Regions from separate parts of the Homo sapiens genome. Here all the other regions are linked to region 2. The links come from fine-mapping of genetic effects on gene expression. A gene starts in region 2. Each other region holds a variant in brackets. All regions are shown on one strand. Distances are between the middles of the regions.

Region 1 (8,083 bases), 79 kb after region 2:
TCACACCTGTAATCCCAGCACTTTGGGAGGCCGAGGCGGGCAGATCACCTGAGGTCGGGAGTTTGAGACCAGCCTGGCCAACATGGTGAAACCCTGTCTCTACTAAAAATACAAAAATCAGGCCAGGCACGGTGGCTCACGCCTGTAATCCCAGCACTTTGGGAGGCCAAGGCGGGCGGATCACGAGGTCAGGAGATCGAGACCATCCTGGCTAACACGGTGAAGCCCCATCTCTACTAAAAACACAAAAAATTAGCCGGCCGTGGTGGCGGCCGCCTGTAGTCCCAGCTACTCGGGAGGCTGAGGCAGGAGAATGGCGTGAACCCAGTAGGCGGAGCTTGCAGTGAGCCGAGATCGCGCCACTGCACTCCAGCCTGGGTGACAGAGGTGACAGAGTGAGACCCTGTCTCAAAGAAAAAAAAAAAAATCTCAAAAACATAACCAAATTAAAAAACCAGTTTCCAAAATGAACAAAGGGCTGGGTGAAGTGGCTCATGCCTGTAATCCGAATACTTAGAGAGGCTGAGGCAGAAGGATCACTTGAGGCCAGGAGTTTGAGACCAGCCTGGCCAACATAGTGAGACCTGGTCTGTACGAAAAATTAAAAAAGCATTTAGCCAGGCATGCTGGTGCACGCCTGTAGTCCTAGCTACTCGGGAGACTGAAGCAGAAGGATCACTTAAGCCAGGCAGGTTGAGGCTGCAGTGAGCTACCATCACACCACACTCCAGCCTGGGGGACAGAGCCAGACCCTGTCTCCAACAAATAAATAAATAGGCCAGGCGCGGTGGCTCACACCTATAATCCCGGCATGATCCTTCCCTTTGGGAGGCCAAGGCAGGCAGATCACCTGAGGTCAGGAGTTCAAGACCAGTATGGGCAACCTGGTGAAACCGTGTCTCTACTAAAAGTATAAAAAATTAGCCGGGCGTGGTGGCAGGTGCCTGTAGTCCCAGCTACTCGGGAGGCTGAGGCAGGAGAATCGCTTGAAACTGTGAGGCGGAGGCTACAGTGAGCCAAGATCGCACCACTGCACTCCAGCCTGGGCGACAGTGAGACTCCGTCTCAAAAGTAATAAAATAAAAACAAAACTAAAAATAAGATGAAGACTTGAACAAAAACTTCAGCAAAGGGGACCTGCAGCAGGCACACAGCGCTAAGGAGACGTCCAGGCTGTGGCCACCAGCCAACTGCAAACTGAAACCATAACGAGATCCCGCAACACGCCCAAGATGAAAATCACGGGCGACAGGACTCCGATGCATCCCGGCTGAGAAGGCAAGGGGCCCGGCACGCTGGACAGTCAGGTGCAGAGTCAGGCACATACCACAGGACCCAGCAACCCCGCCCCCAGTGTCTCCCCTAACAAACTGAAAGTCTACGTCCTCGGGGGGCACGGTACACAAATGCCTATGGAGGAGGCTCCAGTCGTAACAGGCAAGATCTGGCAGCAAACTAAATATTCTTTAGCAGGTGAACAACCTGTGCTACATCCCTACAAAGAAATACTGCTCAGTGGCCGGGCACGGTGGCTCATGCCTGTAATCCCAGCACTTTGGGAGGCCCAGGTGGGTGGATCACCTGAGGTCAGGAGTTGGAGACCAGCCTGGCCAACATGGCAAAACCCCGTCTCTACTAAAAATACAAAAATTAGCCAGGCATGGTGGTGGGCACCAGTAGTCCCAGCTACTGGGGAGGCTGAGACAGGAGAATTGCTTGAACCTGGGAGGCGGAGGTTGCAGTGAGCCAAGATCACGCCACTGCACTCCAGCCTGGGCGACAGAGCGAGACACCGTCTAAAAAAAGAAAAAAAAAGAAATATTGTTCAGCAAAAATGCACAGGCACACACACCAATCTTCTAATGTTAGAAATTTTGGGACTGGCCAGGTGCGGTGGCTCACGCCTGTAATCCCAGCACTTTGGGAGGCCGAGGCGGGCAGATCATGAGGTCAGGAGCTCCAGACCATCCTGGCTAACACGGTGAAACCCCGTCTCTACAAAAATACAAAAAAATTAGCCGGGTGTGGTGGCGGGCACCTGTAATCCCAGCTACTCAGGAGGCTGAGGCAGGAGAATCACTTGAACCCAGGAGGTAGAGGTTGCAGTGAGCTGAGATCGCGCCACTGCATGCCAGCCTGGCCAACATCAAGACTCCATCTCAAAAAAAAAAATTTGCAACGTGCCGTGTGGCACTGTGCTAACCACGAGCACCTTGCGCAGTGAACTCTGGGACTCACGCATCTTCCCAGACTGAAATCTGTTATCAGTTGAACAGCAACTCCCAGCTCCCCTCCCCAGCCCCTGCCCACGGCCACCCTACTTTCTGCTTCTGAGTTTGACTGCCTCACAGCAGAGAGTCATGCACTTGGCAAAACGATAGGGTAAGGGTTTTGTTTAGTTTTGGTTTTTTTGAGACGGAGTCTTGCTCTGTCCCCCAGGCTGGAGTGCAGTGGCGCTATCTTGGCTCACTGCAAGCTCTGCCTCCCAGGTTCACGCCATTCTCCTGCCTCAGCCTCCCGAGTAGCTGGGATTACAGGCGCCCGCCACCACGCCCGGCTAATTTTTTTTTTTTTTTTTTTGAGACAGAGTTTCGCTCTTGTTGCCCAGGCTGGAGTGCAATTCCGCGATCTCGGCTCACCGCAACCTCCACCCACTGGGTTCAATCGATTCTCCTGCCTCAGCCTCCCAAGTAGCTGGGATTACAGTCATCCACCACCACACCCGGCTAATTTTGTATTTTTTTAGTAGAGACAGGGTTTCTCCATGTCGGTCAGGCTAGTCCCGAACTCCTGACCTCAGGTGATCCGCCCGCCTCGGCCTCCCAAGGGCTGGGATTACAGGCGTGAGCCACCGCACCCGGCCAATTTTTGTATTTTTAATAGAAACAGGGTTTCACCGTGTTGGCCAGGCTGGTCTTGAACTCCTGACCTCAGGTGATCCACCCGCCTCAGCCTCCCAAAGTGCTGGGATTACAGGCTTGAGCCACCGTGCCCGGCCTGAAACTCTACATTTTTATCCAGGCCTCCCTGGATGGATGTTGGGAGAGTTTACGCGTGGCCTTGTGGGATCGCTGTGGCGGACTCTCAGCTATCAGAGGGCTCCATCACTCCATCGTAAGGAGGCAGCTGGTGGCGAGTCCTGAGCAGGGATGTGATCCGACGGGCAGGCGGCGCCCGGGACAGAAGCTGACGTCACACAGGTGAGTCCCCCACCTCCCCACAGGCTTCCTCCACCCCCTCGGCAGCCCAGCAGGGCCTGTCAATCAGTGGGACCTGGTCAGCTGGCTGCTAGGGGACCTCAGGCAGGGGGGCTTGTCCGCAGGGCCTCCAGCAAGGGGGGACATTCATGACACCCAGCAGGGCTCAAGAAGGTGAGACAGAGGGACACTGAACCCAGCCCTTTACAGAAGACCTGAGTCCACCGAGGAAGGGGGCCAACCCCCTCCCCGCGTCTGCATCCCCAGGACCACCCCGGGTGGAGAGGGCCGAGTGTGGTGCCTCCGCGGGTGCTCTGACGATCGTCTCGAGCCACGGGGGTGACAGTGACAAGGACCTGTGTGCACGTTAGTGGGGCAGCCAGGCCTAGCTGGAGAAGAAACACACACACGCACACGTTCACCCACATA[C/T]ACGTGCACACACATGCTGCCAGTTCAGGGGGTGGAGGACGCTGACTCCAGGCCCAGCTGACCTGCGCGGGGCCCTATTGTGATGTGTGCAGCCACCCCATGACGTCACCGGTGCCAAGTGCCGGCTGTGTGCGGAGCAGTTGGAGACACAGTGGGTGTCCGAGGGGGGGCTCTGCGTCCGGAGGTGAGAGGTGGGTCTCAACACAGCTGCCCTCCCCCATGGTATGGTGACAGTCACTAACAGGTGGCCTGCGCTGGCCTCCACGTGGCTGCCAAGGGCCATCCCTGAGCACTCAGCGGGTGCCTGTTCCACACGGACTATGAAAATGACTGTCTCGTTCACCTCACGGCGACCCCGTGGGGTGGATACGAACTCACGCCATTTGACAGGCGAGACGTCCGAGGTCAGAGGGGAGGAGACGGACCCGACCTTCCTTGGCTGTGCTCTCCAGCCCTGTCCTGTGCTGGACCCAACCTAACCTCTGCAGCCTCCCTGCCCTGGACACAAATCTGGCTGAGACCCCAGACCCTGATGGGGCAGAGCCTGGCACTGGAGGAGCCACCAGGATGGGCCCCTGTGGGTGTGGGCAGAGGGTGATCCTCAGTTCAGGTTTTTGCCAGAAGATGGGTTCCTGCAGGAGGGGGTCTCAGCAGCTCAGACTTCAGATGCGCTCACTGCTGCTCACTGTGGGACAGCCAGACACGGAGCCCTCTGTTCTCCAGCAGTTGTGGACAATGAGGGATCCCTGGAGGGATGCCTGGTGGGCAGCAGGAGTCCCTCTTGTGGGTCAGGGTGCGGGGATGGGCTCTCCCTGCAGGGACTTCCCAGTCTTGTCCTCTGGGATTGGCAGTTTGCAGGGGTATCCTCGGCATCAGACCAGGGGGGCCACACAGGGACCCAGATCTATGGGGCCCAGCCCCGGGAAGACCAGATGGGCTCAGTGGAGAAGCTGACCACATCTGCTTTCCTTTCAGCCAAACCGGGGAGCGTCCCGGCACCCAGGCCTCTGCGGGTAACCCCAGGCATCAAGACCCTCCCTCAAGGGGAGGAGCTGGCTCTCCCCTGCCCATCAGCACAGCTCCAGAATCCCAAGGGGTCAGCTCCCACATGGGGGCCTGGTCCTGCCACACACTGGCCTAGCTGGGCTGTCCCCGAGGCCAAGGCCTAGCGGCATGAGGGGGCTTCCGTGGAGCCCAGGGCAGTGGGCTGCTCTCTGGAGTCCCTAGGACTCGGGGTGTGGCTGGCCTGTCCCCAGATCAGGACACACCCCAGGTTGTCCAGTGGTTCCCGTGCTGGAACTCCTGTTGAAGCCACCCAGGGACCTGGATGCTTCCCACAGTTCAGCATGGAGCAGGGGTGCTGGGCCCTGACCCCTCCACGTCTGTCCTGGACACCCCAGGACCACAGCACAGGCCCAGCCCTGCAACCCCAGCGGGGCCCTGATACCAGGCCCTGCCCAGCCCCGTAATGACCAAGAGGCAGGTCCAGAGATACCTCCTGCACAGGGTCACCTGCATCTGACGCCCCCAGCAGGCAGTGACCAGCACGGTGTGGAAGGAGCCAGGGTGGCACCCGGCAGCCCTAGAGGGCTCCTGGCCTCGGGAAGTCTATCGATGGGGAAGCTGGTCACTCGGAGGCTGCTGGGGAGAAGGGGGAGTGTGGCATTCCCTGGACAGAAGGGCAAGTGTGGCGTCCCCTGGAGAGAAGGGCGAGTGTGGCGTCCCCTGGAGAGAAGGGCGAGTGTGGCGTCCCCTGGAGAGAAGGGCGAGTGTGGCGTCCCCTGGACAGAAGGGGGAGTGTGGCGTCCCCTGGAGAGAAGGGGGAGTGTGGCGTCCCCTGGAGAGAAGGGGGAGTGTGGCGTCCCCTGGAGAGAAGGGCGAGTGTGGCGTCCCCTGGACAGAAGGGGGAGTGTGGCGTCCCCTGGAGAGAAGGGGGAGTGTGGCGTCCCCTGGAGAGAAGGGGGAGTGTGGCGTCCCCTGGAGAGAAGGGGGAGTGTGGCGTCCCCTGGAGAGAAGGGCGAGTGTGGCGTCCCCTGGAGAGAAGGGCGAGTGTGGCGTCCCCTGGACAGAAGGGGGAGTGTGGCGTCCCCTGGAGAGAAGGGCCAGTGTGGCGTCCCCTGGAGAGAAGGGGGAGTGTGGCGTCCCCTGGAGAGAAGGGGGAGTGTGGCGTCCCCTGGACAGAAGGGGGAGTGTGGCGTCCCCTGGAGAGAAGGGCCAGTGTGGCGTCCCCTGGAGAGAAGGGCGAGTGTGGCGTCCCCTGGACAGAAGGGGGAGTGTGGCGTCCCCTGGAGAGAAGGGCGAGTGTGGCGTCCCCTGGAGAGAAGGGCGAGTGTGGCGTCCCCTGGAGAGAAGGGGGAGTGTGGCGTCCCCTGGACAGAAGGGGGAGTGTGGCGTCCCCTGGAGAGAAGGGCGAGTGTGGTGTTCGCTGGAGAGAAGGGCGAGTGTGGTATTCCCTGGACAAAAGGGGGAGTGTCCCTGCAGCCCTGGCCAGCCAGCGGCATGCCCTGCTAGCTCTCCCCCAACCTCAGGGATAGGGAACCCTGACAGGGCACAAGTCCCCGTCCCAGAGGGGCCTGGCCCAGCCTCAACCCGGGCCCTGGGAGGGGAGGGGCACCAGGGGCGCTGTGGGCCCCCAGCAGAAGCCAGGATGACCACACAGGGGACTGAGCTGTCTGTGGCTGTGGCCAGACCTAGAACTTGGCCCAAGGCAGGGCAAGCCCCTTGGAGCAGAGTGGGTGGCAGAGCCTGTGTATACCCAGCAAGGCTGAGCCAGTGACACTACCAGGCTCCAAGAGCAACCAGCCATGAGGCAGGCGTGGGGCAAGGGTAGGGTGAGGGCAGGGGCGGGGGAGAGTGGGGCAGGAGCAGACGGACCAGCTGCCAACCTCGTCCACTCCAGGAGGCAGGGATGGCCAGGCTCCCACGCCCTACTGGCCGCTACCCGACCACCAATGAGGCAGAGGCCTGAGGCCAGTCGGTGCTGGAGCCCTACTTCCAAGGTCCACAGACCGCTTCAGGCCACAGAGCCGAAGAAAACTGGGCATGTGAAGGCCCAGGAGGCGGGGTCCCTATGTCTGCCATTCTTGGCAGGTGCATTTCACGCTGGGAGCAAGTCAGGAAAGGTGATGCCTCTCACCGCCAAGAAGGCTCCCAGCAGAGACCAGAGCCACCGGCACAGATCCCCAACCCCTGAAACCACCTCCCTCTGGAGGACCAGGACGCCCTCCTAGTTGGTAGAAGCACAGTAAGCTCTCTGTCCTTATGATCTGCCTGCTTGTCCAGAGCTCTCTGCCAGAAGCCGTGGACACTGGGGCAGGCGGGAGGAGAGAGCACCACAGCCCAGACCCCTGACCGGCCTCTCCCAACCTCCCCCTCCCAAAGGCTATGGAGAGCCCAGGGCTGGACAGGCCTGAGGTTCCGACATACCTCATGCCAGGCCACACGCGCACCGTGTCCCACCCTCAGCCGAAAACCAAGATCAAGACCATCCAATAATTTACTGTGATCCCATCTGTGCCCGACAAGGGCCCACAGAGGCCTGGGAGGGGAGCTAAGGGCTGGGGTTCCGGTGGCATTTGGGATGTTCAAGACAGTCTGTGCACAGCCTCCCTGGGAGGGTCTGCAGTCACCTCGGCCCACGGTCCCGGGGTGACTGGGCTCCAGCAGCCCTTCCTTCCTTCCTTGCTTCCGTCCTTCCTTCCTCCTCCTTCCGTCTGCACCTCCTTCCTGCATCCGGCACCTCCATGTCCTGAGCTTGTGCTGGGCGGGGCACAAGGGAGGCTGCTGACCGCAGGCCAGGAGACCGGCAGGGGCGGGGAGCCGGGGTCATCCGGTGGGCGTGGCGGCCGCCCTGGGAGTCCCCCTCACCTGCGTCAGGAGAGCACACACTTGCAGCTCATGCAGCCGGGGCCACTCTCATCAGGAGGGTTCAGCTTCCGCAGCTTGTGCTGCCGGATCTCACGCACCAACGTGTAGAAGGCATCCTCCACTCCCTGGGAAAGGAGGGATGGGATCAGGAGGGACCGGCCTGTGGCCGCCTGCCTGGGTGAGGGGCTCCCTGCTGTGGGATCAAGCCTTGCCTGGCCCGAAGCTCCCGACTCCACCAGCCACTTCCCCAGGCCCACCACACACACGGGAAGCTGGACTCTGGCCATCTCGAAGTGCCCAGGGCCACCCGCATCATGCTACAGCAGCCCCTCAAAGGTCAGGGTGGCCCGGGGCCCTCCTGAACTCCAGGTCTGGCCAGGGTTTGACCACCCTGCACCCAGCTCTCGACTCAGCTACGGCCCGTGTCCCCAGTAGCCCCACTAAGACTCAGAACCAACAGGTGCCCGTGGGACACTCTGGGGACAAGAGGGGCCGGGCCCCAGGGTCACCGCTCCGGCCTGGCTCAGGGCAGCTCTCCCCAAGGACCTCCGCCTTCCCCGGAGCTGTGTCGGCCCAGGACTGCAGGGCGT
Region 2 (8,100 bases):
CTCTCCCAGCTGGGCCTCTGCCCTTGAGGACCACCTGAAGCCATCCTTGCCTGCCACACCAGGGTGGCATTGGGGTGGGGACCCAAACCCCTCCCGTCCTCATTGCAGGGACAACTCTGTCTCCTTGCTGCCTCCCCAACACCTCCAGGCCTTAACCATCTTGACTTGGGGAGCAGTCCTGCTGTCCACGCTCCCTCCAACAAGCCAGAGAAAACTCCCGGGCACAGGTGTGCGTGTGGCACGGTGAGTTTTTCTGTAATCCACTCACCTTTATGGATTTACCGCACCAGGGGAAATATTACAACAGGCATTTGTTACTTTACAAATTCCTAGGCTTCCTCTCCCTTCCTTGCAAGGGCATTTTTAGAAAGCATTTCGCCAACATTCACTATTTACCACCATAAATGTGACTCTGGCCAGCTCTGTCCCTGGGTAAGGCCAGAATTGACCATTTTCTTAAAAGTTCCAGCGCCCTGAGGCTTCTGGCAGGCATCTCTGCAGCTGAGGAAGGCTTCTGTCCCGTGCACCCTTCCCCAGGCGGGGGACCCCCAGTTCTGCTGCTCTGGGGCCTCAAAGAACCAAGTCCTCCAAGCTGCTCCACTGCCTCCTCACCAGCCACGGTGCTCCCTGAGCCACAAACCTCCGGCCTCACCCCTGCCCCTCAGGCCCACGTCTTGCAATGGACTCTGCCAGTCCACACATGCCTGGGTGGGGAGGGGTGTGCACTTCTGCAGCTGGGGTGAAGACAGGGACAGGGTAATGTGAGACTCAGATATGAGACGCCAGGTGCAAAACTGCAGGTGGAGAGCTCCCTGTAGAGTGCAGGGGTTCAGGGTAGAGGCTCTGGGGTCTGGAAAGAGCTGGGCGTAGCTGTCACCAACCTTTCTCTGCCTCAGTTTTTTTTTTGTTTGTTTCTTTTTTTTTTTTTTTTTTTTTTTTTGAGACGGAGTCTTGCTCTGTCACCCAGGCTGGAGTGCAGTGGCGTGATCTCAGCTCACTGCAAGCTCTGCCTCCCAGGTTCACACCATTCTCCTGCCTTAGCCTCCCGAGCAGCTGGGACTACAGGCGCCCGCCACCACGCCCGGGTAATTTTTTGTATTTTTAGTAGAGATGGGCTTTCACCGTGTTAGCCAGGATGGTCTCGATCTCCTGACCTTGTGATCCACCCGCCTCGGCCTCCCAATGTGCTGGGATTACAGGCTTGAGCCACCGCGCCCGGCCTTCTCTGCCACAGTTTTTTTGTCTCTAAGCGACAGTCAAAAATAGAACCTAAGGGGGTGTGTTAAGATCACAATAGTTGGCCCGGCGCGGTGGCTCACGCCTGTAATCCCAGCATTTTGGGAGGCCAAGGTGGGTGGATCACCTGAGGTCAGGAGTTCGAGACCAGCCTGGCCAACTTGGTGAAACCCCGTCTCTACTAAAAATACAAAAATTAGCCGGGCGTGATGGCGGGCGCCTTTAATCCCAGCTACTCCGGAGGCTGAGGCAGGAGAATCGCTTGAACCCGAGAGGCGGAGGTTGCAGTGAGCCGAGATCACGCCACTGCACTCCAGGCCTGGGTGACAGAGTGAGACTACGCTTAAAAAAAAAAAAATCACAATAGTTAGCATTTACAAAGCGTTGGGAATTCTACTTGGCACGTGGCCAGAGCTCCGTAGTGATGGGCAACGAACACGTGGTCTGCGCGCCCGGGGCCGCGCGGTCTGGCGGGGCCGCGCGGTCTAGATCACGCTACTCCGGGTCCCAAGGCCCCGCCCTCAGGCCCCGCCCACAGACCATGTCCTCGGCCCCGCCCCTCACGCGCCCTTGGGCCCCGCCCCCGAGCCGACAGGAACGAGCGTCATTGCGAGGCGGCCTCGCGCGCAGCTTCCTTGGGGCCAGGGACCCCAGTGGGGCCGGTACATCTCCCCGCCCCGGCCTCTGCACCCTGGAGGGACGGCAGGAGGGCTCTCTGTGCAGTTTGAGAGAACACCCATACGCAGGAAATGACCCCAACGCCACCGAGAGGGCGCCTGGAATGTGAGCGCCACCTGCTGGGATGGGAAGAGGTCTGGGAGGGGACCTGAAGGATGGTTCACAGGGAACCAGGCCTGTCGGGTGATTGCTGGAAAGATGGCATGGACGGGAGCTGGCTGCTCTGGCCACTCAGCCGACCCCAGCTGGACGCGGCCAGGGCCTGGGGCAGGGGGCCAGGCCTGGGGAGGCCCAACAGCACGCCCCCTGGAGCCAGCGCCTCCCGCACTGCCCAGCCTGTGTGTCAGGAGCTGGGGTGAAGGTCCCATCACAGTCAGGCCCCATCCCTGCTGGGCGTGGCTGTGCAGGAGCCCCGCAAATATGTTTATATATTTAGTATGTGAGTTATATTTCAATAAAGCTGATATGAGATATACTTCACATATCATGCAGTTCACCCATTCAACTCGTTTCGAGTGGACAGTTGAGTGGTTTTTAGGACATTCACAGATAGGAGCTGAGGTCAATATTACAGCACTTTCATCGCCCCGAAAGAAACCTGCTACCCTTTGTAGTCGCTCCTTATTACCCCTTCCCCAGCCCCCGGTGAAAACTCATCTAATTTCTGTCTTCATAGATTTGCATTTCCTGGACATTTCATACAAATGGATCACATAATGCGTAGTCTCCTGTGACTGGCTTCTTTCACCTAGCATTTTTTTTTTTTTTTTTGAGACGGAGTCTCGCTCTGTCGCCCAGGATGGAGTGCAGTGGCACAATCTCGGCTCACTGCAACCTCCACCTCCCGGATTTAAGGGATTCTCCCACCTCAGCCTCCCGAGTAGCTAGGATTACAAGCGCCCGCCACAATGCCAGGGCAATTTTTGTATTTTTAGTAAAGATGGGGTGTCACCACTTTGCCTAGGCTGGTCTCGAACTCCTGACCTCAAGTCATCCGCCCGCCTTGGCCTCCCAAAGTGCTGGGATGACAGGCGTGCGCCGCCGCGCCCGGCCTGCCTAGCATAATGTTTTCAAGGTCCAGCTGTGCTGTAGCATGCGCATGCTTCGCTCCTCTATGGCTAATAACATGCCGCTATTATCAAAATGCTGCAACTAGGAGCGCTAGTGTGTAAATTTGGCGTGGACACTTGTTTCCAGGTTTGAGGAGCTGCCACATTGCTTTTCAGAGTGGCTCAGGAGCTAATTTTTTTGCAGGGTACCATGTCAACAATTTGGGTCAACTAAAATCAGCGTGTCCGCACCATTTTCGCCCGCCCAATTTCACGCGATCCTGCGAAAGAATGACCCAGACCGGTCCGGGCGCGGTGGCTCGCGCCTGTAATCCCAGCACTTTGGGAGGCCGAGGCGGCAGATCACAAGGTCAGGAGTTCGAGATTGGCCTGGCCAACATAGTGAAACCCCGTCTCTACTAAAAATACAAAAATTAGCCGGGCGTGATGGCGGCCGCCTGTAATCCCAGCTACTCGGGAAGCTTGAGACAGAAGAATCGTTTGAATCCGAGAGGCGGAGGTTGCAGTGAGCCGGGATCGCGCCATTGCACTCCAGCTCGGGCGGCAGTGCGAGACTCCGTCTCAAAAAGGAATGACCCGGGTCGCATGGGGTGAAGGGTCGGGAAGCGCCCCAAAAGGAGAACGGGGCTGGGCTCCGGGATCCGTCGGCGAGGAAGGGGCGAAGGGGTGGAGGGACTCGGGCCAGGCCGCCGGGGATGTCTGTGGTTACCTCCAAGCTCTGGAGGCCTTGGCGAGACCCGCGCCATCCGCAGCTTGGTTCCTGCGACCTCAGCCGCAGGGCGGTCCGGCTCCGGTTTCCCAGCAACCAGGCGTCATCCTTCCCAGCAAGCACTGCGTCCAACCCGCGACGTCGGACCACAAGGCCCAGCATGCCCCGCGCGGACTACAAGCCCCACAATGCACCGCACACCCTTTACTGGCCGGCCCCGCGCTGCTCTCCTAAGACCCCGCGGGCCAGCGCCGCGACCCCTTCCCAGCGCTCCTCGCGCTGTGTGCGGCGCGTCCTCTCGCCGGTGACCCGGTGTGCGTGGGGTCGAGGCGCCGGGCGGAGTGGCTCCGGGCCGAAACGCCATGCGGAGGGGCGAGCGCAGGGACGCCGGAGGTCCGCGGCCCGAGTCCCCGGTGCCCGCGGGCAGGGCCTCGCTGGAGGAGCCGCCTGACGGGCCGTCTGCCGGCCAAGCCACCGGGCCGGGCGAGGGCCGCCGCAGCACCGAGTCCGAGGTCTACGACGACGGCACCAACACCTTCTTCTGGTGAGGGCAGTGGGCGGCCGCGGGGCGGCGAGGGTGCCCTCGACCTGGGGGTTCCGGCACCGCTGGCCTGGGGGTCCCCGGCAGCGCCCTCTCGCCGTCTTGGAGTCCAGGACTGTGGCCGGGGGTTTGAGGGTGTGGCAGCACCGCCCCCCGGGTCCCGGGGAGCGGCCGGACCGAGCTCCCGACGCCGGGTCGGGCGGAGGGCGGCGCTGTAGGTGGGGGAGACCCTGGGCAGACCCTCCCTGCGGCCGCTTTGCGTCTCTCTCGCCGCCCTCCCCACCCCTGCCCGCCTTGGCTCTGACCGCGCGGTTCTGCGATCCAGACCCCTTCCCCGCCACCCGCCTCCAGCGTCACCCCAGAAACGCTTTCTCTGTCCTGCTGTCGAAGCTTCACCTGTGTCCCCCGTCATTCTGCCTGTGGTTGCTCCTCAGTGCTTGCGGCTGCACGAAATCATCTTGTGTGTCGCGCCCGACCCCACGTGGCGATCGTGTTGATTAGCAGAGTGTTGTGCGTGCTTCAGGAATGTAGTCGGTGTTCGTCGAATCCAGGCTCTGTTTCTCTCCTCAGTTGCCCCTAGCGGGGCCAGCGCCTCCTCCCTGCACAACTCAGCCCTAGCTACACCTTGGGGTCCCCCTGTCCGCCACTCTGCCTTTAATGGGGGTGGAAAAGGAAGAGGCCCCCGGGAGCAGCTGGAGTGTGGCACTCTGTGTCCAGACAGGCTCCAGGTGCCGCTCCTACTCCCGACAGCTGCGACCCTGGGCTGGCCCTTTGCCGATGCTCCTCTGTGAGAAGGATCAAGCCGTCGACCTGAAAGCAGGCTTCGTGAGAGGAGGGTTTGGCTCTTCTTGACTGCAAGGTGCCCAGTTCCCATCCTGTGGAAGGCCCGGGGGCACAGGGGCAGTAGAGGTGGGGTCAGCCCCAGGAAAACGTGTGGGAGACAGGCGCCTGCGGCCAGCAGTGGAAGGAAGGCTTTATGGACGCTTCCAAGAGAACCATGCTGTGGGATGGTCGGAGAGCAAATCTGAGGGGCGAGGAGGGCCTGATGGAGGAGTAAGGGACTTGTCAGGGGAAGGCGCCACCACAGACAGGGACTTAACCGGTCCTGGCCTGTCACCGCAGCCGAAGCTCTGGAGAGAGACTGTCCAAGTGGTGGGAAAGCAGGTTAGGGTGGAGGAGGCCCCACGCAGGGTCTTCCGTGAGGTGTGGGCAGCTGCTGTTGCAGGGAGGGCATCCGAGCTCTCCTTTGGGGAGATGAGTGTACCGGGTGGCTGCGGGGCCCTCGGGAGGGAGAGGAGATGGGGTGCCTGCCACGTGGACCCTCTGGCTTCCGGGCCCTGTGGACATCAGGCCTCTCCATCAGGTGCCCTGCCACACCCCTTCAGGCTGTCCTCCCGCAGCACAGCTGGGGACCACCGGAGTCTCTGAGGTCCTGGAGCAAGGAGACCAGACTGGCTCTTCTGAGGTCCCGGAGCAAGAAGACCAGACGGGCTCCTCTGACATCCCGGAGCAAGGAGAACAGACGGGCTCCTCTGAGGTCCCGGAGCGAGGAGACCAGACTGGCTCTTCTTGTTTCTCATTTGGCCGTTCAGCACATTGTGGGGACCCCTACTGCCTGTCAGTTACCGTTCTACGGGACATAGCAGAGAACTAAACAAGAAGCTTAGATTCTGGTGCAGGCATGGAACTTCAGAAGGCTCAAAATGTGCTGGCTGGGTGCTGAGTGTGGCAGGAGCCAGGGGGCACATGCAAGCCTGCGCAGCCCACCCAGTACCAGGGAAGCAGGAGCAGCAGCCCAAAGGTAGGAGGGGGCCGGTCTCTTTAGAAGCCCAGACCAGTGGTCCCTGCCCACAAGGGGTGTTTGGGACACAGACGGCTGGGCGCAGCAGAGCTTGCCTGTCAGGAGGCCAAGGGGGTCAGGAGGGCTCTCCAGGAGCGGGTGCAGCGGGGCTGGCTGGTCCAGGTACCTCCTTCCTGGGTCTTCTGGGTGGGTGGCTCTGGCTCTGGCTTTCCCCTCGACCCTGTCCCTGTAGAGACGCATGGGGCAGGTTCTTGCTGTGCCTCCTCCCTTCCCTGTGCAGAGGAAGGAGCTTCACGCTTCTGGGTGGCAGGTAACTCAATGCCTGCCTGGTGAGAATTCATTACCTGCAGAGCCTCACACTGACCTCCTGAGTCCACCTGCACTGACTTGCTGTGCTGGCATTTTTTTAACTCTAATTTTGTGTTTTAGAGAGTTTTACTTTTTATTTTTTATTCATTTTTATTTATTTATTTATTTTTAATAGAGGGTCCCCCTGTGTTGCCCAGGCTGGTCTTCAACTCCTGGCCTCAAGTGATCCTTCCGCCTCAGCCTCCCAGATTGCTGAGATTACAGGCATGCACCACCACATCCAGCCAGGGCGTTCATTTTCAAGGATGGGTGCACTTCCTCGGGCCAGTGACGGCGGCCATGTGTGAATTTTGTTTCTCTGTGACTGCTTGTCAGCCATAGGGATAGGGCGTGCGGTTCGATTCAGGGCTTGACTGGCCCTGGGAGCACGAGGCTGAGCTCTCCTTCTCTGGATTCATTCAGGGTAGCAAGGACAATTATGGGGAACATCCAGAGGAAAACGTTTAGATCCACAGACTCCGAGAAGCCCTGTGCGAAGATGTGGCAGCTCATGCGGTCTGGAAATTGTTTGGGAGAACACTTGGGGACCCCTTACCCTGGCGAGGTGCCTGTGAACGTTGCCGCCTGTCTGTGGGAGACGCTGAAGCAGCTTCGGATGACCACACTTGCTAACCAGTTCCCGAGCTGGGGGCCACTGTGATGTTCTGAGAGTTTTTATTGTATGCTTGTGTCTTGGAATGGGGTGCCTCAAATGAGCCTTCTCAGTGACCTGAGGACTTTATGTGTGAGGTGACCTCTGACCTTCAGATACCCCAGGTTTCTGGAAGATGCCTTTCTCCATCATCCTGGATCGGGGCTTTCCCAGCTTTGCCTACACCTGGGAGGCGCGAGTAGCCAGATGAAGTCTTTCTGGTCTTGCTGGTCAGAGCCAGAAGGGCCAGTGCCCGGTCCAGGAGCCTCTCGCAGGCCTTGGGCTGCCCATCCAGGCGTGGCCTTTCCTTGGCCCTTTGGACGACGACGCCGCGTTTTCCTCTTGGTCTCGGCCTCCCTGCCCACCATGAGAGTGGACATGAGAGTGACCATCTCCAAGGAGGCAGCTGGGTCTTTTCCACTCCCCATGGCAGGGAGCCAGCTGTCTTCACGCCCTCACCCTAGTGAAGTGGCTGAATTGCCAGGATTGATCACAGCTCTGTTCTGTGTCTGATCACAGGACATACACCGTCCTGCAGAGTCTGCAGGCGGGTGGGAGGAGCCATTGAACAGACCTGGCGTCCTGGGAGGGACACGGAATTCTTCCCTTGAGAGTCTCATGCTATCTTGAGCGGCACTCTGTCACTTCCAAGATGTGTAGACGTCGTGCTGCGTGTAGGACAAGGACTGGAGCTCACTAATACGGACCTTACTTTCCAGGAGCGTTGGATTTGAGCAGCTCTGAGATGTGTCCTCCTGCAGGGCTGCTGTGCCTGGTGCCCTTTCTCTGGGTCCCTTACCCTCTGCCTCCCTTCCTGTTGGGTCCTCTTCATTCCCATTTCTGCTTCCCCAGGGCCAGGAGGGTGCTGGGCACTCGGTGGCCACCTCAATGACAGTGTGCACATTTACCTGAAGGGGCGAAGGGTTACCTTTATATTTCAGGTAATCTCTGTGTTTTGGGGAAATGGAAAGATGGTGTTGGGTTAGGGTTGATCAATGATCAGCGTTTCCCTGGGCTACACAAGGAGTGAGTGTTGGGTTGGTGGCCACTTTAGAAACCACAGGA
Region 3 (8,100 bases), 61 kb after region 2:
GGGGCGCGGGGCGCGGCCCCCGGAGAAAGCGGCCGCCTCGGGACAGGAGGGACCCGGGAGAAACCCCCCTGGGGCGGCTCCGCATGTCGGGGTCGCGACTCTAGGCGACCTTGGTAGAGGGGCTCGTTTGCGCCGAGCTCGCGACCCCCGAGGGAGCCACGGCCCCGTGAACCACGCTGCCCGTCCTGGCCACTGGCTGCCGCCTTTGTTTCGTGGGACCCCAGCCCGCAAGGCCTGCGGAGCCGCGGCCTCGTCCCGAGTGTTCTGAGCGCGGTCCGAGCTGCTCCTGCGTCCACTCTGCTGCCGACACCCGAGCGTCGCCTGGAGCCCTGGCACTGAGGGGCGCAGGCCGAGTTCCAGACCAGCCTGGGAAACGCAAAGCGACCCCACCTCCACAAAAGTGGGTTTTCTTTAAGTTTTTGACTAGTCCGCAATTCACAGAATTGACATTTTGGCAGATGAAGATTGCAAGTAAGGAAACTAACGGTATCTCAGATTTGTTCTTTAGCAATTTGCTAAACCTCTCCTCTGACTGCCTTTATTAGGTATTTGTTTTCGAGACAGGGTCTCACTCCACTGCTTAGGCTGTACTGCAGTGGCGCGATCCCAGCTCGCTGCAGCCTCCACCTCCCGGACTCCAGTGATCCTCCCGCCTCAGCCTCCCAAGTAGCTGGTACCACAGGCGCCAGCACGCCTGGCTAATTGTTGTATTTTATGTAGAGAAGAGGTCTCCCTGTGTTGCCCAGCCTGGTCTTGAATTGGGCTCAAGTGATCCTCCTGCTTCAGCCTCCCATATCGCTGGAATTACTGGCATAAGCCACTACACCCGGCCTGATCATCTTTAAAGAAGGTGGTTCTGGCCGGGCGTGGTGGCTCACACCTGTAACCCCAACACTTTGGGAGACCGAGAAGGGTGGATCACCTGAGGTCAGGAGTTCAAGACCAGCCTGGCCAACGTGGTGAAACCCCATCTCTACTAAAAATACAAAAATTAGCCAGGCATGGTGGTGGGCACCTGTAATTCCAGCTACTTGGGAGGCTGAGGCAGGAGAATCGCTTGAACACGGGAAGCAGAGGTTGCAGCGAGCCTAGACCACACCATTGCACTCCAGTTCGGGCAACAAGATGAAACTCTGGCTGGGCGCGGTGGCTCACACCTGTAATTCCAACACTTTGGGAGGCCAAGGCAGGCAGATCACCTGAGGTCAGGAGTTCAAGACCAGCCTGGCCAAGATGATGAAACCCCATCTCTACTAAAATTACAAAAACTTAGCCAGGCATGGTGGTGCATGCCTGTAATCCCAGCTACTCAGGAGGCTGAGGCAGGAGAACCACTTGAACCCAGGAGGCAGAGGTTGCAGTGAGCCAAGATCGTGCCACTGTACTCCAGCCTGGGCAACAAGAGCGAAACTCCATCTCAAAAAAGAAAAAAGAAACTCCGTCTCAAAAAGAAGGTGGTTCACACACACACACACACACCCCCAAGAAAGCTCAGGGCTGGAAGGCAGCCAACCTGGCTGTGACCCTCATCCTGCACACGTGAGCTTGGTGACCAGTAGCTGATTCTTTAACTCTCTAAGCTTTGGAGTCTGGATGTGAGGTTTAGAATTCATGACAAGAAGCTGGAAGGATGCCGCCAGTCTGACTCCTGGACTGGTTCTCTTGACATCTTTGCAAAAGCTGCTGAAATGTTCTGGTTTCATTTCATTCTTTTCTTTGCCATGATCTCTTAGATTTGTTCGTGGCAATTCTCATAAGAGTGAAGAAAATGTTTAAAATGGCTGTTGGGCTCCCTTTTGTGACACCTTGTGGGGAAGGTGCCCAGGTATGTATAGGTGCTGAGCGCACGGCCAGCATGGTGTCTGTGGCCGGGCCTCCCTCCTGGACAGTGCGGCCACAGCCCCTGAAAGGTATGTCTTCATTTTTATTTTATTTTATTGAGATGGAGTCTCGCTCTGTCGCCCAGGCTGGAGTGCAGTGGCGCGATCTCGGCTCACTGTAAGCTCCGCCTCCCAGGTTCAAGCCATTCTCCTGCCTCAGCCTCCCGAGTAGCTGGGACTACAGGCACCTGCCACCACGCCCGGCTAATTTTTTTTTTTTTTTTTTTTTTGTAATTTTAATAGAGACAGGGTTTCAGCGTGTTAGCCAGGATGGTCTCGAGCTCCTGACCTTGTGATTCGCCCGCCTCAACCTCCCAAAGTGCCTGGCCTTCATTTTTATTTTTGAACTTACCTGCCTCACCTCGTTATGTCTTTATCTTATTTTTAAACTTACTCAGTTCACCCACTGTGGAATTGGGAGTATATGGAAGTATTCCCACCCCCAGTTTTATATACCGCCCCAGAGCTGACCATTCTCGCTCATTTCCCCGGGTCCTGGCCGACTCGAGTGTGCCTTTCCTTCCGATCCTGCTCCACACAGATCTGAGGGATGCTGCCCTTTCCTTCTCCACCTGCCCCTCCCTCACATCCAGCCCCACCAGCCTACACGTTAGCTTAAATAGGGAGCTTTTACATTCCCCATGAAAGGGAATCCAGGGACAGGCTGAGGCAAGAGACCCCCAGTGTTCATGAGATGCCATCTAGAGAAAACACCGTGGTGCTGAAGGCCTAAGTCAGACCCCGGGGAGAGAGGCACCAGGGTGACTTTGGGTGGAGAGTCCTGTGCCTGTTCTACTTCTATAAATATACTCAGGTCAGGCACGGTGGCTCACGCCTGTAATCCCAGCACGTTGGGAGGCCGAGGCAGGCGGATCATTTGAGGTCAGGAGTTCAAGACTAGCCTGGCCAACATGGTGAAACCCCATCTCTACTAAAAATACAAAAAAATGGCTGGGCACAGTGGCTCACACCTGTAATCCCAGCATGTTGGGAGGCCAAGGCAGGCAGATCATTTGCGGTCGGGAGTTCAAGACCAGCCTGACCAACATGGAGAAACCCCGTCTCTACTAATAATACAAAAATTAGCCAGGCATGGTGGCACATGCCTGTAATCCCAGCTACTCGGGAGACTGAGGCATAAGAATCGCTTGAACCCAGGAGGCAGAGGTTCTGGTGAGCCGAGATCACGCCATTGCACTCCAGCCTGGGCAACAAAAAGCAAAACTCCATCTCAAAAAAAAAATACAAAAAAATGAGCTGGGCGTGGTGGCCTGCACCTGTAATCCCAGCTACTTGGGAGGCTGAGGCAGGAGAATCACTTGAACCCAGAAGGTGGAGGTTGCGGTGAGCAGAGACCACACCACTGCACTCCAGCCTGGGTGACAGAGTGAACCATGTCTCTAAATAAATAAATAATATGTTTGTCTGAAAGTGCCTTTTTAACAAAGTATGAGATGTGTACATAAAGTGCACATAGCGCAAGTGTCGCACGCAGTGGATTTTCACACGCAGCACGTGAAATGGGAAAACACTGGCCCGGCACGGTGGCTCACACCTGTCATCCCAGCACTTTGGGAGGCCGAGGCGGGCGGATCACAAGGTCAGGAGATCGAGACCATCCTGGCTAACACGGTAAAACCGCGTCTCTACTAAAAATACAAAAAATTAGCCGGGCGTGGTGGCGGGCGCCTGTAGTCCCAGCTACTTGGGAGGCTGAGGCAGGAGAATGGCGTGAACCCGGGAGGCGGAGCTTGCAGTGAGCCAAGATCGCGCCACTGCACTCCAGCCTGGGCGACAGAGCTAGACTCCGTCTCAAAAAAAAAAAAAAAAAGAAATGGGAAAACATTGAGGATGAAGTAGCAAATATTTGAGAATTCAACTTGATTGGTGGCTGTTGCAGGTTCATACGTGAGTGGTTACGTAGTGGGTAGTTAAACTGACAATGACCAGCTGAATTTTGGTGACAGGACTGCTCCTAAGGTTTGAAATGTAGCGTATCCTCTGATTCACGGGCTAAGCTCTGCCACTTAGCAGGAGGAGCTCATGATAGAGCAGGTTGAGGGGAAAACTTTGCCCCATAAGGGTTCTTCACTGCAAGTGAGAAGGTCTTGGCTTTGAGCCTCCAATTTCAATCAGACAGAAAGCAGACCAGTCGGCAGGACAGTATATGCCTCTGGAGATCCGTGCTGATGTGGGGGCCTCAGATACAAGATGCCTCAGGGCCCAGGCGTGACCCTCTCCTTCCCTCCTGCACGGAGATGCTGTGAGAATTAGACACTCCCACAGGGCCCTGTCAGACACTGAGCTAGCCTCTGGGAACCGGAAGATATTCAAAACACCAGCCACCCCCCACACACACAGACAAGGCGCTGGAGGGACAGCTGTGCAGCGGCAGAGCATGAGAGGTCTTGATCAGTTAACTCAGTGAGGTTAGGAGGCGAATTTTTTTTTTTTTGAGATGGAGTCTTACTTTGTCACCCAGTCAGGAGTGCAGTGGCGTGATCTCGGCTCACTGCAACCTCCGCCTCCTGGCCTCAAGTGATTCTTCCGCCTCAGCCTCCCGAGTAGCTGGGACTACAGGTGCGTGCCACCACACCCAGCTAATTTTTGTATTTTTGGTAGAGACAGTGTTTCACCACGTTGGACAGGCTGGTCTCAATCTCTTGACCTCGTTATCTGCCTGCCCTGGCCTCCCAAAGTGCTGGGATTATAGGTGTGAGCCACAAAGCCTTTTTGTTTTCATTTTTG[A/G]GATGGAGTCTCGCTCTGTCGCCCAGGCTGGAGTGCAGTGGCATGATCTCAGCTCACTGCAACCTCTGCATCCCAGTTCAAGCAGTTCTCCGCCTCGGCCTCCTGAGTAGCTGGGATCACAGGTGCCCGCCACCACACTTGGCTAATTTTTTGTATTTTTAGTAGAGATGAGGTTTCACCGTGGTGGCCAGGCTGGTCTCAAACTCCTGACCTCAAATGATCTGCCTGCCTCGGCTTCCCAAAGTGCTGGGATGACACTGAGCCACCGCGCCTGGCAAGGAGGTAACTTGATCCATACGTTTGCGTTTACATGGTGCGAGGAAAGGGCACCCTTGGTAGATGGAACAGCGTGTACAAAGGCCCGGAGGTTTAAAATCACCACTCTTCTAGCCCTCATACTAACTTTGCCTATTTTGAACTTTATATAAATGGAATTATATTGCATGTTCTCTTTTGTATCTGACTTCCTTTTCTCAATACTATATGAGTGGTATCCATGCCATTTAAAGTAATGGTGGATTAACTCAATGCTACGTCGCCTTCTAGTTGATGGAGGGCAGGCAAGACCCACAGTGGGGCTGAGCCCCTCGAGGGTTCCTGGCTTTGCCCAGGAAACAATTCAAGGGCAAGCTGGAAGTGAAAGTAAACAGGCCAGGCATGGTGGGAGTTACTACCCCTTTCCATGGCAATGACCCCACGACCCAAAAGTTACTACCCCTTCCCTAGAAACTTTTGCCTGGGCTGCCCCTTAATCTACATGAAATTAAAAGTGGGTGTAAATGTGGCTGCAGAACTGTCCTGAGCTGCTGCTCTCAGCACACTCTGCCCAGCACACCCCGCCTGCAGGGGCCGTCGCAGAGCTGTAACCCTGCCGCTTCAAGCTGTTTTGTTTTGTTTTTCTTTCGAGACAGTCTCGCTCTGCTCTTCCAGTTTGAATATCACGCAGGCTGGAGCGCAGTGGCGCAATCTCGGCTCACTGCAACCTCTGCCTCCTGGGTTCAAGCAATTCTGCCTCAGCCACCCGAGTAGCTGGGATTACAGGCACACGCCACCATGCCCGGCTAATTTTTGTATTGTATTAGAGACAGGGTTTCACCATGTTGGCGAGGCTGGTCCCGAACTCCTGGCCTCAAGTGATCTGCCCGCCGTCCGCCTCAGTGTCCCGAGGTGCTGGGATTACAGGTGTGAGCCACCGCACCCAGCAAAAGTGCTTTCTCGAGATGGAATCTGCGCCTGGTGAAGATGCTCTAAACATTGCTGAGATAACAAAGGATTTAGAATATTCCATAAACTTCGTTGGTACAGCAGCGATAGGGTTCGAGAGGATTTTCCAGTTGTGAGAGAAGGTCTGCTGTGGACAAAATGCTACCAAACAGCATCGCGTGCTACGGAGAAATCTTTTGTGAAAGGAAGAAGCTCAATGTGGCCAGCTTTATTGTTGTCTTATTTTAAGAAATTGCTGGCCGGGTGTGGTGGAGAATCACTTGAACCCAGGAGGCAGAGGTTGCAGTGAGCCGAGATCACGCCATTGAACTCCAGCTGGGCATAAGAGCAAAACTCCATCTCAAAAAAAAAAAAAAAAAGGAAGAAATTGCCACAGCCACCTCAGCCTTCAGCCACCACCACCCTGATCAGTCAGCAGCCACAAACAAGACCTTCCACCAGCAAAGAGATCCCAACTTCCTCAAGCCTCAGGTGATTGCTGGCACTTTCTATCAGTATCTTAGTTTTTTGTTTGTTTGTTTTTTAATTTTTGAGACAGAGTCTCACTCTCTTGCCCAGGCTGGAATGTAGTGGCACCATCTCGGCTCACTGCAACCTCCGCCTCCCAGGTTCAAGCGATTCTCTTACCTTAGCCTCCGGAGGAGCTGGGACTACAAGCACGCACCACCACACCCGGCTGATTTTTTTCCATTTTTAGTAGAGACGGGGTTTCACCATGTTGGCCAGGCTGGTCTCGAACTCCTGGCCTCAGGTGATCCGCCCACCTTGGCCTCCCACAGTGCTAGGATTACAGGTGTGAGCCACCACCCCCAGCCATTTTTTTTTTGAGACGAGGTCTTGCTTTGTTGCCCAGACTAGAGTGCAGTGACATTATCTCGGCTCACGGCAACCTCTGCCTCCCAGGCTGAAGCAATCCTCCCACCTCTGTCTCCCTAGTAGCTGGGACCACAGGTGCACACCCCCACACCCGGCTAATTTTTTGTATTTTTGGTAGAGACAGGGTTTCACCATGTTGCCCAGGCTGGTCTCCTGAGCTCATGCAATCTGCCCACTTGACCTCCCAAAGTGCTGGGATTACAGGTGTGAGCCACTGTGCCCAGCCTATTATTATTATTATTTATTGTTTTTTTGGTCTTGAGGGAGGGTAGGGTGGTGGGAGCCCAGTTGGGGAGGGAGTGAGGAGTGGTCAATAAAGTATTTTAAATTGAGGCATATGCATTGTTTTGTAAACATAATGTTATTGCACACCTGACTGCACTGTGGTATAAACATAACTTTTATATGCAGTGGAAAACCGAAAAATCCCTCCGACTGGCTTTATTGCGACATTTGTGTTATTGCGGTGTCTAGAACTGAACCGTGGTAACCCAGGCCCGCCTGTGCTAACTTCCAGCACTACCGAGGTTGACGCAGCTAGATGGTTTTCTCCCCGGCTGGTTGCTGCTTCTCACCCACAGAGGCGGTGGAGCCCTTGGAACTGGGCAGAACACAGGGCTGCCTTGTCACCACTGCCTGGCTGAACCTGAAATTGGGCCGTTTGACAGAAAGACTTGAAAGGGCCACCAGTAAATTCTTTTTTCTTTTCATTGATTTTCCTCTTCTTACTTTCCTCCTCCTGAAGTTGGGGTCATGTCCCAAGAAGACCCACAAGGCCTGGCCTGTGGGTGCACATGTGGGGAGGGTCAGGTCTGTCGGCTGAGGAGGGCATTGGTAGGGGACTTTGAGCAGTGCTGCTCCGGAGACACGAATGATGGGATGGGAGGCTCTCCCATATCTGCCGAGAGCACAGCACCCCATGACTCCTGGGAGCTTGTCATAGATGCTGCAGATGAGTCCTTCCTCAGACGGGATATTTGCTAATGCCTCTGCCAGCCTGGGCTTGTCTTCTCAGGGCCTTTCAAAATGCACACACCCTTCATTCTCATGATGTCCAGTGGATCAGGTTTTCCTTTATGTGTCATGCTTTTAGTGTTTAAGAATCATTTCTCTAACCCAAGTCACACTGACATCCTCCTTTTCATTCTTAACGCACATTTTACAGTTGTAGGCCTTACATTTTGGCTTATAATAAGTTCTGAGGCCAGGCACAGTGCTCACACCTGTAATCCTGGCACTTTGAGAGGCCAAGGCGGGTGGATCACCAGAGGTCAGGAGTTTGACACAAGCCTGGCCAACATGGTGAAACCCCGTCTCTACTAAAAATACAAAAAGTAGCCAGGTGTGGTGGCGGGCACCTGTAATCCCAGCT
Region 4 (8,100 bases), 38 kb after region 2:
TTACACTTGCATATTTATTTCAGCGCTGCTCTATTTATCGTGGTGCCCAAATTCTTTTGCCAAAAGGAATTTCCACGTGGTTCCTGTATTGCTTTCACACACCCTCACGGAGTTCTTGGCTTTTCGTTTTGTTTTTCTGAGGACATCCTGACTTCCTAGCACTGCGGGATGCTCCAGGCTCCTCCTGTCCACTCCCCACCCTGGTCCTGGAATCAGCCCCTTCTCCAAGAGCCTTGGGTCCTTACTGAATATTAGGAACTGAGGCCTGGGTGTTGGGTGGGCTGCGTGGTCCTGGGTGCCATAGCTCACAGAGGACGGGCATGTGTGCACTCACTGTGTGTGCAGGCGTCTGTAAACACAGCCAGTGCAGGGGTGCGTGTGTGCTGTGTGCGCAGGAGAGTGTAAACAGTGCACGGGCGCGTGTGTGCTCACTGCGCAGGCATCTGTAAATAGTGCATGGGCGTGTGTGCTCACTGCGCAGGCATCTGTAAACAGTGCATGGGCATGTGTGCTCACTGTGTGCACAGGCGTCTGTAAACTGCACGGGCGTGTGTGCTGTGTGTGTGCAGGCGAGCGTAAACAGTGCACGGATGCGTGTGCTCACCGTGTGCGCAGGCGAGTGTAAGTGCACGGGTGTGTGTGCTGTGCGCAGGCGAGTGTAAACTGCACGGGCGCGTGTGCTCACCGTGTGCGCAGGCGAGTGTAAACAGTGCACGGGTGCGTGTGCTCACTGTGCGCAGGCGTCTGTAAACAGTGCACGGGCGTGTGTGTGCTCACTGCGCAGGCGAGTGTAAACTGCACGGGCGCGTGTGTGCTCACTGTGTGCGCAGGCGAGCGTAAACTGCACGGGCACGTGTGCTCACTGCGCAGGCGAGCGTAAACAGTGCACGGGCGCGTGTGTGCTCACTGTGTGCGCAGGCGAGTGTAAACTGCACGGGCACGTGTGCTTACTGTGCACAGGCGAGTGTAAACAGTGCACGGGCGCGTGTGCTCACTGTGTGCGCAGGCGAGTGTAAGTGCACGGGCGTGTGTGCTCACTGCGCAGGCGAGTGTAAACTGCACAGGCGCGTGTGTGCTCACTGTGCGCAGGCGAGTGTAAACTGCACGGGCGCGTGTGTGCTCACTGCGCAGGCGAGTTTAAACAGTGCACGGGCGCGTGTGTGCTCACTGTGTGCGCAGGCGAGTGTAAGTGCACGAGCGCGTGTGTGCTCACTGCGCAGGCGTCTGTAAACAGTGCATGGGCATGTGTGCTGTGTGTGTGCAGGCGACCGTAAACAGTGCACGGACGCGTGTGTGCTCACCGTGTGCGCAGGCGAGTGTAAACAGTGCACGGGTGTGTGTGCTCACTGTGCAGGCGAGTGTAAACTGCACAGGCGCGTGTGCTCACCGTGTGCGCAGGCGAGTGTAAACAGTGCACGGGCGCGTGTGCTCACCGTGTGCGCAGGCGTGTAAACTGCACGGGCGCGTGTGCTCACTGCGCAGGCGAGTGTAAACAGTGCACGGGCGCGTGTGTGCTCACTGTGCGCAGGCGAGTTTAAACAGCGCACGGGCGCGTGTGTGCTCACTGCGCAGGCGAGTGTAAACTGCACGGGCGCGTGTGCTCACTGCGCAGGCGAGCGTAAACAGTGCACGGGCGCGCGTGTGCTCACCGTGCGCGCAGGCGAGCGTAAACAGTGCACGGGCGCGCGTGTGCTCACCGTGCGCGCAGGCGAGCGTAAACAGTGCACGGGCGCGCGTGTGCTCACCGTGCGCGCAGGCGAGCGTAAACAGTGCACGGGCGCGCGTGTGCTCACCGTGCGCGCAGGCGAGCGTAAACAGTGCACGGGCGCGCGTGTGCTCACCGTGCGCGCAGGCGAGCGTAAGCAGTGCACGGGCGCGCGTGCTCACCGTGTGCGCAGGCGAGTGTAAACAGTGCACGGGCGTGTGTGTTCACCGTGTGCGCAGGCGAGTGTAAACACAGCTGGTGCCCTGGTGCGTGTGTGCTGTGAGCACAGGTGTCTGTAAATGATGTAAACCTCCCTTGACGTCAGGCCCAAAAGCCTGCCTTGCCCTAAGGTCAAGAGGTGTATCTGGCTGATGCCAGCGTCTGGGTGAGGAAAGAGCAGGTTCCACAAGGGCGACTCCTGTGAGGGTGTTGGCCTGAGCGCGCATGCGGGGAGGGGTCGGGGTGGGGGCGGCGCGCCGCAGTAACTCAGGGCCCCATCCCGCTCCCGTCTGTCCAGCGGTCCTAGACCCCCATGTCCTGAAGCGCACCTGTGCCCACCTGGCCCCGGGGAGCGCAGGTGTGGAGATGGGGTGTCGTGCCTGGGGGTTCCTTCCCCACGCGCTGCCCCACCAGGATTTCCCTGGGGTGGGGAGGGCTGCTGAGACAGGGCGCTGCCCTCCTCCAGGGTGACTGAGATGCAGTTTACAACCATGATCTCCTGGCCGGGCGTGGTGGCTCACGGCTGTAATCCCAGCTCTTTGGGAGGCCGAAGTGGGCGGATCACGAGGTCAGGAGATCAAGACCATCCTGGCTAGCACGGTGAAACCCCGTCTCTACTAAAAATACAAAAAAAAAATACTAGCCGGGCGTGGTGGCGGGCGCCTGTAGTCCCAGCTACTCGGGAGGCTGAGGCAGGAGAATGGCGTGAACCCAGGAGGCGGAGCTTGCAGTGAGCCCAGTTCACGCCACTGCATTCCAGCCTGGGCGACAGAGCGAGACTCCATCTCAAAAAAATAAAATAAATAAACAACCATGATCTCCCGTTTCAAGTTGCCACCACTAACTGTAGCCCCGCTGACGGGGGCACTGGCCTTGCAGACTGTCCAGGACGGCCGGCAGTTTCTAAAGTATGTTGACCCCAAGCTGGGAGTCCCACTGCCAGAGAGAGACTACGGGGGAAACTGCCTCATCTACGACCCAGACAATGAGACTGACCCCTTTCACAACATCTGGGTAAGACGCCGGGGGCCCTGAGGCGAGCCCCTCCCCAGGTGTGGCCCCGTGCCGGACCAGGCGCCATCCACGCTCCTGCCTCGCACCCCTCAGCCCACACTTGGGGTCTCCTGGTGCAGAGATGTGCTGAGGCCCTGTCCGTCTGGATGGTGCTCATGGTGGGCAGGGGGCCCCTGCTCTCTAGGCTGTCGTGGACGTGGTCTCCACAGGCCACGGCAGCACCTGTGAGTCCCTGGCCTTCTTCCCGGGGTCTGGCAGGTGCTGCTCAGGTGTGGGCTGATCTGCCGGTGTGGGGAGTGGGGGTGGCTGTGCCCCAGGGTCAAGGGTCATACCCTGTCGCCCACAGGACAAGTTGGATGGCTTTGTTCCCGCGCACTTTCTTGGCTGGTACCTGAAGGTACGGCACCTCCTCTTCCCGGCCTCCCCGCCCCGGTTCTGAGGCCTGCCGTGGGCTCTGGACCGTTTCTGTCCATGGAGTTGAGCTCAGGGTGCTCTGAGTGTGGTGGGAGGGTGTCGCACTGCAGCCACCCAGAGGTTCGAGAAGCCGTGGGGCTCCCGGACCTCCCAGAAGCCCTGATCCTGGTCGGGTCCCCGCTCCGTCCTCAGGGTCGGGGCGGTGGAAAGAGGCGGCAGGGCAGGAAGTCCCGCCCCTGCCTGGGCTTGGGCACTGCCCCATCCCACTTCTGAGGGACCCTGTGCTACCTATGGGGCTAAGAGCAGTGCCTGCTTGACCCTGCAGCCCACCCTGGCAGAGTTTGGTGTCAGGCCCCGGGCACGGGGATGCTGCCTTGTTTGCTGACAGTCGTACATCGAGGCTGCTGGAGGGGCAGCCACCCACCCCACGCTCACCCTGAGACCTCACTGGGGGCCCTGCCAGTGCTGTCGACTCCAAGAATGCTGCCAGCCGGGGTGGGGGCTGCACGCACCCGTGGGCAGGGCCGGGCGTGGCCTGCGTCCCATACTCTGGCTGCCAGCCGGGTGGGGGCTGCACGCACCCGTGGGCAGGGCCGGGCGTGGCCGGCGTC[C/G]CATACTCTGGCTGCCAGCCGGGGTGGGGGCTGCACGCACCCGTGGGCAGGGCCGGGTGTGGCCGGCGTCCCATACTCTGGCTGACCCTGGCGCCCACAGACCCTGATGATCCGAGACTGGTGGATGTGCATGATCATCAGCGTGATGTTCGAGTTCCTGGAGTACAGCCTGGAGCACCAGCTGCCCAACTTCAGCGAGTGCTGGTGGGATCACGTAGGTGCCAGCACAGCCCCCGGGGCAGTCGGTGCAGGCTGAGGGGCATTCTCGGAACCCCTGTGCCCAGCGCGGCCCCTGGACCCCCTCATTCTCCCCGGGGGGCAGTGGGTGCAGGCTGAGGGGCATTCTCGGTTCCCCTGTGCTCTTCCGGGGTCCTCCTCGGGGGGCTCGTTACCCCTCACCCCTGCAACGAGTGCTGGCCCCTCCCTGCAGTGGATCATGGACGTGCTCGTCTGCAACGGGCTGGGCATCTACTGCGGCATGAAGACCCTTGAGTGGCTGTCCCTGAAGACGTACAAGTGGCAGGGCCTCTGGAACATTCCGACCTACAAGTACGTCGTGGGGGCTGCGAGGGCAGGGCCGGGTGGGGGTTACCTGGAGGCAGCCTCAGCGTCCGTGCTCCAGCAGACCCCGAGCACCAGGCCCGTCCAGTGTGCGGCTCAGGAGGGGTGACCGTGGGGCTTTGCCTCCTGGAACCTCCCTCTGACCTGGTGTCACTCAAGCCCGGCCGCCCCTCACAGTGGCCATGGCGTCTGACCCACGTACCTCCCTCCTCAATCCCTGGCCGGCCTGGCGCAGGGGCTGTGGGATCATTCCGTGCTTCTCCCTCCCTTGGTTGCTTTGGTTATGAAATAGTTGCAGGTACTTTGTCATTATGACTTTGGAATTTAAAAAAGAAACAGAAGTCTAAGGAAAGGCCTGGGGGACGGGGGTCTCCCCTCCTGCCTGTGGGTGCCCCGGCTCTGCCTGGCTCTGCAGACATGGCTAGCTCACGGCACCGTGGAGCGCCCTCTGAGGCGCTGCAGCCACTGCTCAAGCTGGAAGAGACTGAACAGCAGAGGGCCGTGGAGAAGCAGGGCTTGTAGCTGGGTGGCCAGACCTCGGAGAACAGCCGGGCAGCAGCTGGGTAACCAGGAACAGAGTCTGTGGCCCGATGGCACAGGGCGGGGCGGGGTGACCAAGAGCAGAGCTCGTCCGATGGCACAGGGCGGGGCCGGGTGACCAGGAACAGTCTGTTGCCCGATGGCACAGGGCAGGGTTCGGTGGGCTGCCTTCCTCAGGCTGCCGGCTCTGTGGTTCCCAGGGGCAAGATGAAGAGGATCGCCTTCCAGTTCACGCCGTACAGCTGGGTTCGCTTCGAGTGGAAGCCGGCCTCCAGCCTGCGTCGCTGGCTGGCCGTGTGCGGCATCATCCTGGTGGTAAGGCCGGGCTGCCTCGCGACGGCGCGGCGGGCGGGGGGCCAGAGCTGGTGCTCACCCTCTCCTCCCCTAGTTCCTGTTGGCAGAACTGAACACGTTCTACCTGAAGTTTGTGCTGTGGATGCCCCCGGAGCACTACCTGGTCCTCCTGCGGCTCGTCTTCTTCGTGAACGTGGGTGGCGTGGCCATGCGTGAGATCTACGACTTCATGGATGACCCGTGAGGGCTGCGGCAGTCCGGGTGGAGACACCCCCGGGGGGCAGGGGCCGGAGGGCTGGGGAGCAGAGCCTGGGAGGCCGGAGCCTGGGCAAGTCCGCCTGGAGGACCCTGCGGGGCCCGGGACGCTGAACCCCCTGCTGCCCCTGCAGGAAGCCCCACAAGAAGCTGGGCCCGCAGGCCTGGCTGGTGGCGGCCATCACGGCCACGGAGCTGCTCATCGTGGTGAAGTACGACCCCCACACGCTCACCCTGTCCCTGCCCTTCTACATCTCCCAGTGCTGGACCCTCGGCTCCGTCCTGGCGCTCACCTGGACCGTCTGGCGCTTCTTCCTGCGGTGAGTCAGGGCAGGGCGCGTATGTTCTGAAGGAGGGCCGCTGTCCGGGTCCCTTGGCACAGGCACTGTGGGAGTTTGGTGTCGTTGGTGTCTCACTGTCCCTGCTTCAACCCTCTGGCCGCCTCTGCGGGAGGCGCCTTTCCTGACCCAGCCCTCGGGGCCTTCGCTCTGCACTGACAGATCCAGGCTCCTCAGGGCTCCAGTCTGCCACGGCTGCCGTCCCAGGGCCAGGGTACCCGGCACCCACCCAGTCCATTCCGGACCTCCACAGGGACTAGGTGCCAGCTGTCCATGGGGCCTGCAGTGGGGCTGGTGTGGGGGCAGGTGGTGACGCTGCATCCCGCTCCCCAGGGACATCACATTGAGGTACAAGGAGACCCGGTGGCAGAAGTGGCAGAACAAGGATGACCAGGGCAGCACCGTCGGCAACGGGGACCAGCACCCACTGGGGCTGGACGAAGACCTGCTGGGGCCTGGGGTGGCCGAGGGCGAGGGAGCACCAACTCCAAACTGACCTGGGCCGTGGCTGCCTCGTGAGCCTCCCAGAGCCCAGGCCTCCGTGGCCTCCTCCTGTGTGAGTCCCACCAGGAGCCACGTGCCCGGCCTTGCCCTCAAGGTTTTTTGCTTTTCTCCTGTGCACCTGGCGAGGCTGAAGGCGAGGGGTGGAGGAGGCCCCAGCACAGCCTCATCTCCATGTGTACACGTGTGTACGTGTGTATGCGTGTGTGTACGCGTGTGTACGCGCGTGTGTACACATGCGTGGCCGCCTGTGGTGTGCACGTGTGCTCTGGGCTCCGAGGCTTCTCCAGAGCTGGGAGCTGGCTGGCGTGGCAAGGGCATGCTCTGGGGCAGTGTGTCCCTCAGGAACCAGGGTCCTCCCTCCCCTTTCTGCCTGGTCAGCCCCGTGGCCTCTGGCCCACCAAGCTCCCTGTCACCCAGCCATGGTGTGGTCCAGGCAGGGACATCTCGGTACCCTTTCTGCACTCCGTGGGCCCTGGGTGCGCTGAGGCCTGGAGGCGTCTACACTGGCTCCACATCCACTTCCCCCGCAGCTCGTGTGGGCGCTCGTCCACAAACACTCCGTGGCTGAGAGGCAGCGGATCCAGGCAGCGATGCTGAGCCACCTCCTCCGAGCCTTCCTTTCACACAGACCACCCCGGAGGACACGTGGATGATGGGGTCAGAGATCACTGAGCTGCCCCTCAAGGGGGCCTGGAACCCGGGTGCTGGGGTCATGCTGCCTCCGTGGCTCCAAGGTGAGGGTCATCTTCACGAGCAAAGAGAACCAATAAAGTGACAACGAACGTCTGAGGCTTCCAGCCCTCCCCCCAGCTCCCCGTGTCCTGCTTTGGGGTCCAGTGCAGCCCTCCAGCCTGCCCTCATGCCCAGTGCCCACTTGGGGAAAACCACACAGAGGACAGGAGGCACTCAGCCTCTGCACCTGAGCAAAGACTTGGCGCCTGCCCCGCCCCACCCCCCAGAGAGAGCAGGTGCCAGATGCAGCCCCTCTCCCATTCTCCAGGAGGGTCCAGGTGGCACCCACCCTCTGCTGCGCTTGTCCAAGGGCTGGCGGCCACTGGGCAGTGGACACAGGATTCCTGGGGTACTGTGTTTGTCCCAGGCTGGCAGACACTGGGCAGTGGACACAGGATTCCTGGGGTGCTGTGTTTGTCCCAGGCTGGCAGACACTGGGCAGTGGACACAGGATTCCTGGGGTGCTGTGTTTGTCCCAGGCTGGCAGACACTGGGCAGTGGACACAGGATTCCTGGGGTGCTGTGTTTGTCCCAGGCTGGCAGACACTGGGCAGTGGACACAGGATTCCTGGGGTGCTGTGTTTGTCCCAGGCTGGCAGACACTGGGCAGTGGACACAGGATTCCTGGGGAGGGGCAGCCGCCTTCTCGGGCCACTATTTTTATGTTTTTTTTTCTTTTTCTTTCCTTCCTTTTTGTGGAGAACGGGGTCTCGCTATATTGCCCAGGCAGATCTCGAACTCCTGGGTTCAAGTGATCCTCCTGCCTCTGCCTCCCTGAGAGCTGGGATTACAGGCGTGAGCCACCATGCCCAGCTTGAGCCACTATTTTTTTGAGATGGAGTCTCACTCTGTCAGCCAGGCTGGAGTGCAGTGGCGTGATCTTGGCTCACTGCAACCTCTGCCTCCTAGGTTC

Alleles and levels. Alleles are on the strand shown, and positions count from the first base shown. SD is a standard deviation of normalised expression in the study named. Not every link is listed here.
With allele C in place of G in region 4, the expression in lung of the gene that starts at base 3,879 in region 2 is lower (large effect, 1.0 SD a copy in GTEx).

The links. PIP is the estimated chance that this variant, and not a neighbour inherited with it, causes the effect.
Region 1: its variant is fine-mapped to the expression of PTDSS2 in cerebellum (GTEx, PIP above 0.99).
Region 3: its variant is fine-mapped to the expression of PTDSS2 in whole blood (TOPMed, PIP above 0.99).
Region 4: its variant is fine-mapped to the expression of PTDSS2 in lung (GTEx, PIP above 0.99).

Annotation. Positions count from the first base shown.
Region 1 is chr11:525,138-533,220 of GRCh38, forward strand. HRAS (HRas proto-oncogene, GTPase) reads right to left here. Exons shown (of 6, transcript NM_005343.4): 5 at 7,494-7,618; 6 at 7,105-7,385. The coding sequence ends at 7,499. It also overlaps a transcript of LRRC56 not described here. Among named protein-coding and RNA genes, the nearest start is that of HRAS, 6.4 kb to the right of the region's middle. RefSeq lists an enhancer at 3,368-3,905. The variant C/T (reference allele first, on the strand shown) is at 3,627.
Region 2 is chr11:446,401-454,500 of GRCh38, forward strand. PTDSS2 (phosphatidylserine synthase 2) reads left to right here and starts at 3,879. Exons shown (of 12, transcript NM_030783.3): 1 at 3,879-4,237. The coding sequence starts at 4,056. RefSeq lists enhancers at 1,507-1,646, 3,379-4,065, 3,664-3,943 and silencers at 1,657-1,946, 2,037-2,346, 3,974-4,213, 4,404-4,463, 4,474-4,563.
Region 3 is chr11:507,627-515,726 of GRCh38, forward strand. It overlaps a transcript of LRRC56 not described here. Among named protein-coding and RNA genes, the nearest start is that of RNH1, 4.4 kb to the left of the region's middle. The variant A/G (reference allele first, on the strand shown) is at 4,629.
Region 4 is chr11:484,136-492,235 of GRCh38, forward strand. It overlaps PTDSS2 (phosphatidylserine synthase 2), which reads left to right. Exons shown (of 12, transcript NM_030783.3): 5 at 2,804-2,938; 6 at 3,285-3,335; 7 at 4,064-4,177; 8 at 4,394-4,512; 9 at 5,265-5,379; 10 at 5,453-5,598; 11 at 5,748-5,933; 12 at 6,285-7,264. The coding sequence ends at 6,447. Among named protein-coding and RNA genes, the nearest start is that of RNH1, 19 kb to the right of the region's middle. RefSeq lists an enhancer at 202-723 and a silencer at 3,733-3,873. The variant C/G (reference allele first, on the strand shown) is at 3,964.